2 linked regions of the Homo sapiens genome follow. The protein of the gene in region 1 interacts with the protein of each later gene in a pairwise test. Each region holds a gene or a part of one and is shown in the gene's direction. Other genes may lie near its edges.

What was found.
Region 2: the proteins of PPP1R1B (region 1) and ROBO2 interact in a two-hybrid assay, tested with the Homo sapiens proteins (one large-scale study listed by IntAct).

Annotation. Positions count from the first base shown.
Region 1 is NC_000017.11:39,629,723-39,633,529, forward strand, and holds part of PPP1R1B (protein phosphatase 1 regulatory subunit 1B), read left to right. Parts: intron 1-249; coding exon 250-325; intron 326-3,807. UniProt on the Homo sapiens protein: Inhibitor of protein-phosphatase 1.
Region 2 is NC_000003.12:77,038,417-77,042,323, forward strand, and holds the start of ROBO2 (roundabout homolog 2 isoform 23 precursor), read left to right. Parts: upstream 1-1,682; 5' UTR 1,683-2,369; coding exon 2,370-2,430; intron 2,431-3,907. UniProt on the Homo sapiens protein: Receptor for SLIT2, and probably SLIT1, which are thought to act as molecular guidance cue in cellular migration, including axonal navigation at the ventral midline of the neural tube and projection of axons to different regions during neuronal development.

The DNA of each region.
Region 1 (3,807 bases):
ACCAGCAGATCCTCCTCTGCTCAGACTCAGGGTGGAACCTCCTGGACCTAGAGTCCTGCCCTGAACCAGGCCATGGCTTATGGGGGGCCCCCCCTAAAGCCACAGGGTGGGGAGGCTCAGCCTAGGTGCAGGACCCATTAGCAGTGGCTAAATCAGTCTGCTTGGGTGGCCATGGGTGGGATGGAATGGAGGGATGGTGAAGGCAAGGGCCTCTGCTGAGCCCCTTTAACCTGGCACTTCCCCTGGCAGAGAGCCTCAGGAGAGGGGCACCATCTCAAGTCGAAGAGACCCAACCCCTGTGCCTACACACCACCTTCGCTGAAAGGTACTATACCCCCACCGACCTTCCTGGCTGTCCGCCTGATCCCTGGAACTGGGCAGACGCTAGGGGAGCTTTTGTCAGTGGGGAGGGATTGTTTCGCCACACATAGCCCGCTGTCAGCGTGGCGCAACAACCCAACGTAAAGACCAATTTTTTCTCAGTCTGGCCTTGCAAAACACAGGAGTCCCGAGGCTGCAATGGGCAGCTATGGGCCTTAACATCGGGTTGTGGGCTTGAAAGAAAAGAGATGGCTGGCCTAAGACAACCAGCAGGCATCCGCGTGGAAGGGACTCCACCTGCAGCTCCTCTTCACCAGCCTGTGGTGGACCACCTCCCACCCCTGCTCATCCAGGGCGCCTTCTCCTGTGGGCTTCACCCCTGGCCTCCCCTCCCATTTGCATCCCATTTGCACAGATCTGCACACTGGTCTCCTCTTTCCTGCTTCCCTTTCTCCATGGAAAAGCAAGCCATTCCTTTTGCACACTTACTCAACACCTAGTATATGCCAGGCCAAGTTGGTGGGCATTGGGCAGAATAAGATGAGTCAGATTTGGTCCCTGCCCCCTTGGGGCTCTTTGCCTCAAAGGGTCAGGGAGGGGCCAAGTAAGGTGGCTCACACCTGAAATCCCAGCACTTTGGGAGGCCAAGGCGGGAGGACTGCTTGAGCCTAGGAGTTCGAGACCAGCTTGGGCAATACAGTGAGACCCCCATCTCTATGAAAAATTTACAAAGTGAGCTAAGCGGGCCGGGCGCAGTGACTCACGCCTGTAATCCCAGCACTTTGGGAGGCCGAGGCGGGCAGATCACCTGAGGTCAGGAGTTTGAGACCAGCCTGACCAACATGGAGAAATCCTGTCTCTATTAAAAATACAAAATTAGCCAGGCGTGGTAGCGCATGCCTGTCATCTCAGCTACTCAGGAGGCTGAGGCAGGAGAATCACTTGAACCCGGGAGGCAGAGGTTGTGGTGAGCTGAGATCGCACCATTGCACTCCAGTCTGGGCAAAAAGAGCAAAACTCTGTCTCAAGAAAAAAAAAAAAGTGAGCTAAGCATAGAGGTGCACACCTATAGTCCCAGATACTTGGGAGGCTAAGGCACAAGGATTGCTTGAGCCCAGAAGTTTGAGGCTGCAGTGAGCTATGATCGCACCACTGTGCTCCAGTCTGGGCTACAGAGTGAGAGCCTGTCTCGGGAAAAAATAAAAAAAGAAAAGGGTCAAGGAAGGTACACAAAGATGTTTAAGCTTGGATTTGAAGGATCATAGGAATTTAACAGGCAGGCAAGGGCATCCCAGGTCCAAGAAGAGGGAAGAAGGTGTGCAAAGAGAAAGAGATGCGAGTCAGAGGGGGACTTCTGGGCCAACCTGGAGGAGGCTTCGTTTCTAGTCAGGGAGCTGGGGAGATATACCTGAAGGACATAGGAGGGCCTCTTCCTGACTAAGCCCTGTTGCCTACCAACCCCCCACCTCAACTCCTGCCTGGGGCTCTTCCTGCCCGGCCAGCCCCCTCCGCTCCTGCGGAGGTTGGGAGGGAGAGCTACCGGAAGAGTATGCTGGGAAGTGGTTCGGGGGAGGGTTTAATAAGTTCCCAGCACCAGCCAAGGTCAACAGGTATACCTGTCAGCCCACTTGCCAGGGTTGGGAACAGAGAGGAGAGGCTGGGAAGGGAGGAGAGAAGGGAAGGGGTTATTTTGCTTTCCCCAGGACAGGAAAATGAAGGGTCAGAGCTGCAGCAAGTGGGCAGTGTGGCTCAGCACCTGGAAGGACCTCCCCACCTAGAGGGGTGTGTGGAAGGGCCCCAAAGCAGGCATGAGGGACAGAGTGTCATCTTCTCAGGAGAGAATTTAAGAAATCCCTCTCCCTCCCACCTTGGGCTGGGTAGGGAGAGGCTGGGTGGATGTGAGGGGAAGACCTGGCTCTTGACTGCAAGCATGGGCGAACAGGCCAGGATGAAGATGTTAGGGCCAGGGTGCTACCATGCACCGTGCAGTGGTCAAAATTGTGCACCCCCTCAACTGCCCCTTTAGGCCACATCTTAGGAGAGTCCAGGTGAGTAGAGGCAGGGAAGAGGAAAGGGATCAGGAGAGGGGTGGCCAGTCTGGGGCAAGGCTGGGGACCTTCCAACTGAAGAAGGAAGACTTGTGGTGGGGGGAGTTTGGGGCCCCACAGAGTGGGGCAGAGAAGGAGACAGCCTGGAAGGAGTGATGGGGAGACCCCAGAGAGCCCAGGAGGCATGAGGGAGGTGGGGGAAGCGAGGGAGGCTCACGGGGCACCAGCGCAAGCACCGCACACACCTTCTGTTGTCACTGTGGCTCACGAAGTGAACTCTCCTCCCCCGCTGGGGGAGAAGGAAGCTGCCTGGGCTGCCACCTGCTCTCCTGCCTTACCTCCCCCCACAGCCCTCATGGATCCTTCTCTACCAGGAGGGCACTGTTTTGTAGGCTTCAGTCCTTTTGTGGGCAAGGGAAGGTGCCCGGCAGGGTTGGGGCTTGTCAGGGAAGAATCGAGGGCCCTAGAGAGAGGGGCACAGCACTAAGTCTTAGCTTGAGGGGTTGTGCTCCAAGGCTGGAGCTCTCACACTTGGCTCAAGATGAAGCTCTGCCGCGTCCCCAAGGTCAGGGTAGGGTGATTTATTGTGCTTTTATTGCCTGGATAGCTTGCCCAGAGCCAGCAGGAGGTACTGGGCTGGGAGCTGGGGGCTGGGTGGGGCAGCGGGCACATACAAAGCACCCTCTGTGCCTGTCCCCGAGTTGGCAGGAGCATAGCACCCTGCTCACTGTGCCGGAGGTTTCCAGCCTGGCCCTACCCCTCTGGGCCTTCTGAGGGGAGGGGCCACTGGCAGACCAAGAAGGAACTGCAGCAACTCCCCATTCCCCACCCCCAGCCCCTCCTCAGCATCTTGTCTGTGGCCTGTGAACTTTGTGTCGCATATGTTCTAAGATCCTGCCAGCTCCTGCAGCCTCTCCTCAGTGGCCCCTCAACCTCTGCCATCCCCCAGAACCCCTGGCCTTGGCCCCTTTCTCTAACCCCTTGCTCCTTTCCATCTTTTGGAAACTTGTCTCCAGCTGCCCACACTGTTCCCTTCCCAGCCCTATCTGAGCAGGTCTTTGGAGGCTGGGGGGGTTGCTTTCTAGGTCACCGCAGAGGGAGCTGGGAACCTGGGGATGTGGGTCAAGATTGTGGGGGCCGCATCTGAGCATGCCGCATCCCCCGGCACAGACTGCACTGGCTGCAGACTATTATGTCCTCAGCCTCGGAATTGTTCTGTCCCTTGGAGCCCGGGGCAGGAGTATGTGGATTGGCATCTATGACTGGGCAGTGCCAGGGAGTGGGGACTATGCATCGCATGGGAGGTAGGATCAGGGTAAGCAGTGAGCCCTCAGCAGGCTGGGCACCCCCAAGAAATGGAAAGTGGCAAATCCCCAGGCCCTGGTTCCTACGCCCTGTGCCTTCTGCCTGGGCTTGAAGCTGGGAGACACTGTCTCCC
Region 2 (3,907 bases), on another chromosome or scaffold:
CTTGAATGTCGCTGACCTTTTTTTAAAAGAACACACAGCGCCCATAATATGCAAGGGAGACCTAAGTTAAGTAGCAGCACCAAAACGTATCCACCAAACAAAGGCTCTTCCTCAGACGGCCCCTTCTGGAGAGAACCTTTCCTAATATTTTCCAGTAGGGGGAACTAAAGACTCACCATCCAGCATTTAGCTCGGCTCGGGGACCTGCGTGAGTTCCTATAAGCCGCCTTCTCATCATCTGAACAAGCATCAAACGGCTACCAGCGAGCCTGTGATCACACGTGGGCCCGGCCGCACCGGGGCACCGCCGACACCGGCACCCCTTTGATCTAACGTGACCTTCCTTCATCATCCCCGGTCCTGAATGGCATCCTTTGGTAGTCTTGGTCTTAATTTTCAGAGTTTTGTCGTCTTTGGGCTGAAATTCGGCTTCTTTTTGAGCTTCCATGAGCTCAGCTGGGCTTTCGGCTTTCCACACCCAGAGCCTATGTTTACCGAATTTCCTTCTGGAGGTGCTGGTCCCTGGAGGGTAAAGACTTCGGGGATCCCCCTCCCCCAAGCTCTGTGATCCCCGCTTCCCCGTCCTTAGCATCTTCTGTGGAACTCCCTCGCCCTGCGCGATCGCGCATCAAACTCATCGTGGAGGGGTCAAAAGGCAACTGAGTAACATAAGAGGGGCTGCCTCCCCTTCCTCCTTCCCTTGGGGATGCCGCAGGGGGCCATAGATCTTGGCTAAAATGAGCCGCTGGAGGTTAGAGAATTCTGCCCCCTCCTTTTTCTCCCCCTTGTGCTTTTGAATCATATAGGAAGCATCTACACACAACCTTTCCAGTCCAAAAGGTGCTTCTATTTCCTTTCCTTTCCTTTCCTTCCTCCTACTCGGCTTCTCATCTGGCTAAAAGGTGAAGAGTGAGTGAGTGTGTGATTTTAACGCGTAATGAGGCTGCGCCCTGGGTCCTGGAGGCTGATCTTTTTCAAGAAAGCGCGTGCAGCTCCGGCAGACGGAGGGATGAATAATTAGGAAGGGCTTCCATGAAATCACTCACGGAGAAAATTACCTGCCCATTAAACGGGACGCGGCGAGGAGCAGGAGCCTGGAGCCCACCTATCCCCTCCCGAGGCGGGAAGGAGTGGGCACCCGGGGGCGCGGAGAAGGGGAAGGAGTCGCCCGGTGGCCTCGGCCCTCGGCAGCCGGCGGGGCTCTCCGAATTTGTTCATCTCCGTCCCCCCGGGGACTCTCGGCTCTCCAGGACCCCTCCCCACTCCCCAGCGGGCGGGTGGCCGAGTCCGGAGGTTCAGGGCTCCGCGCGCCCCTCCTCGCCCCCGCCCCTCCCCGGGCCGACTCCAGGCAGCTCTCATTCCTCCCCTCCCCTCCCGCCTCCTCGCCTTCCCTCCTAGAAGTCCTTCCACCCGCGGCAGCTGCCGGAGGAAGCGGACGCTCTGCTGCGAGGCTGCGGGGGCTGGACCCGGGCGAGGGGCCTCAGCGCGCCTGGCGCTGGACTGAGCGCTCCCTTTCTCCGCCGCGCCCGGGCTGGGCTCTCACGCCCGTCTCTGCTCGCGCCCGCAGCCGCCTGGTGCACTATCCTCAGAGGCGGCACCGCGGGGGTGTCTGCAGCCTCGGCCTCCGCCCGGCCCCTCCCTCCCTCCCTCCCTCCCTCGCTCCTTCCCTGCCTCCCTCACCACGTAGGAGTTCGGATTCTCCACCCGAATCGTCCTGATTTCCCTTCTCCTCTCTTTTGGAAACCGGAGAGGTGGAGGGAGGGCAACACCGCTGCAAAGGAGAGGCCCGCCAAGTCTGCCCGCCTGCAAAGTGTTGCTTTGACACATTCTTATTATGGAAGTTAAGTAAAAATATAGACATATTAAAAAATAACTCCGGACGTGGAGCTGCTACGGAGAAGGAAACCGGGGGAAAGAAAACCAGTAGGCAGGCCAATGGTTTTTCGGCAGCGCGCTGGCAAGTTTGTGGAACACTTTCTAGGAATTAGGTCTTTTCCTCCCCCTTCATCATCTTGACTTCTGAAGGAAGAACTTGGCTTTGGATTGCAGTGGAGCCTAAGGAGAGAGGGTTAGACACACTCGAATAATCCCTCTGGCTGGGCTGAATTTGTGGGAATTTAGGAAGCCAGAGTGCTGGAAATACAGCAGCCTTTGAAGTACCCTCTGTTAATTTGGATGGATCTCAGTGTGCCCCGTTCGAGACCTCTCCACCAACCCCTTCTGATCTTGCGATTTGCTCTTCTTGACTTTAATTAGTATCTAGGAAAGTCTAAACTTTGGACCTACCTCTTTTTTTGATACTCATTTTTGTACTTTTGCTCTCTGGGATTGGTTTCTTAAAGAATCTGGATCCTTTTTAATATGTCAAAATGAGTCTGCTGATGTTTACACAACTACTGCTCTGTGGATTTTTATATGTTCGGGTTGATGGTAAGTTAAAAATGCTTTCATCTTTTTTTGCGCCCCCCACCCCCCAATCCCCCAAAACCATTTCTTTTTGAATTTGATGTGGGTTATAAATGAAATGACATTATGTCTGTTAGTCCGTTTTGGCCCGGCACGGGCTCCTTGGGGGCAGAGGTTTTATTTAAGTCTTTTGTTTCTAAACTGCTGTAAGTGGAATGTGTTGGTAGTCACCTATTGTTGTTATTGTTGTAATTTACTTCACTAATTAAGGAGTTGGATAATAAATGATTGGGCTCCCAGTTTTGTTAGAAAAAGAAATATTACAGTCAATCTCCTGCAAGAGCCTAATACTATTGTGCCTGCTCTCTATTTGATGTTTGCTCTTGTGTCTGAACTTTGGCTGAGACATTCAAGTGAAGAAATACAGTAATAGACACTCTAAGGAAGGTTCAGTGGGTTAGGAATTTGAGACTGAGATCAATGTGTATCACCTGTGTGCCAGTGAATGCTCTCCTAGCGTTAAATCGAATGAAGAATTTAGATCCTAGGGAGAAAACTGTCAAAAGTGAGACTGGGCGAGGCTCCACGAAGGGGGAAGCATCAGCTATGGGCTGGCCACAGGAGTAGAACACTTAGCTCAGTCCCCAGTGGGCAAACACAATGGGGACCTTAAACAGGTGCTGGAGGTGTCTCCCTCTAGGTTGAGTCAGTCTGTCAAGCCCACAGCATTCTGCCTCTGATTCTCTTGTCTTTTGTTCCGATTTGGTTTACTGGGATATTTTCACAGGATGTCAATTTCTTGTGCGACTATTGCAAAATCCTTTTTTGTGGTTCTTTTGAATGAAGAGTGGAAATAATCATTAACATGCTTTTTGGTTTGTATTCAAAAGAAAAAAGTTAAAAGAATATTTGCTGTTAACCTTCTAGAGGCTTTAATTTTTATATCGATGGAAACAACTGGTATAAGGGAGTACTAGATATTTTTTTTTTCTAACTGGATTGCAGTACTTTAGGTTTTTAGTTACTTTCTGTACTTGTAAAGAACCTAAAGGGTATTAGTCTAACTGTTTGAGCCATCACAATAGCTTGTTGCCACATAAACTTTCCTCCAGCATTTGCATTGTGGATGAATTCATTATTTGGGACACTGCCTATTTTGGCCCATCTGAGTAGCTAACTTTGTTCCTGGCAGCTACTGCTGCATAGAGCCCAATGTATTGGACTCAAAAAGGAAGGCTTTCTATAAACATGAGGCAATACAGAGGAGTTTACCTACTGTCAAGTGGCTGTTTTCAATCATGGACTACATGAGTACCTTTGCCCCCCAGCGATAGTGAGGGAGGGATGCGTGTGTGTGCACTGCTTCTCTCTTTTACCAGTCTAAGCAGTAGATGTTTAAGATTTAATTATTGTGAATTATACTATGGCAACATCTCTAATTATTTTTCATGCATTTATTTTTCAGTACATTAAAATACGTGTACATTACCGTAACAAAATA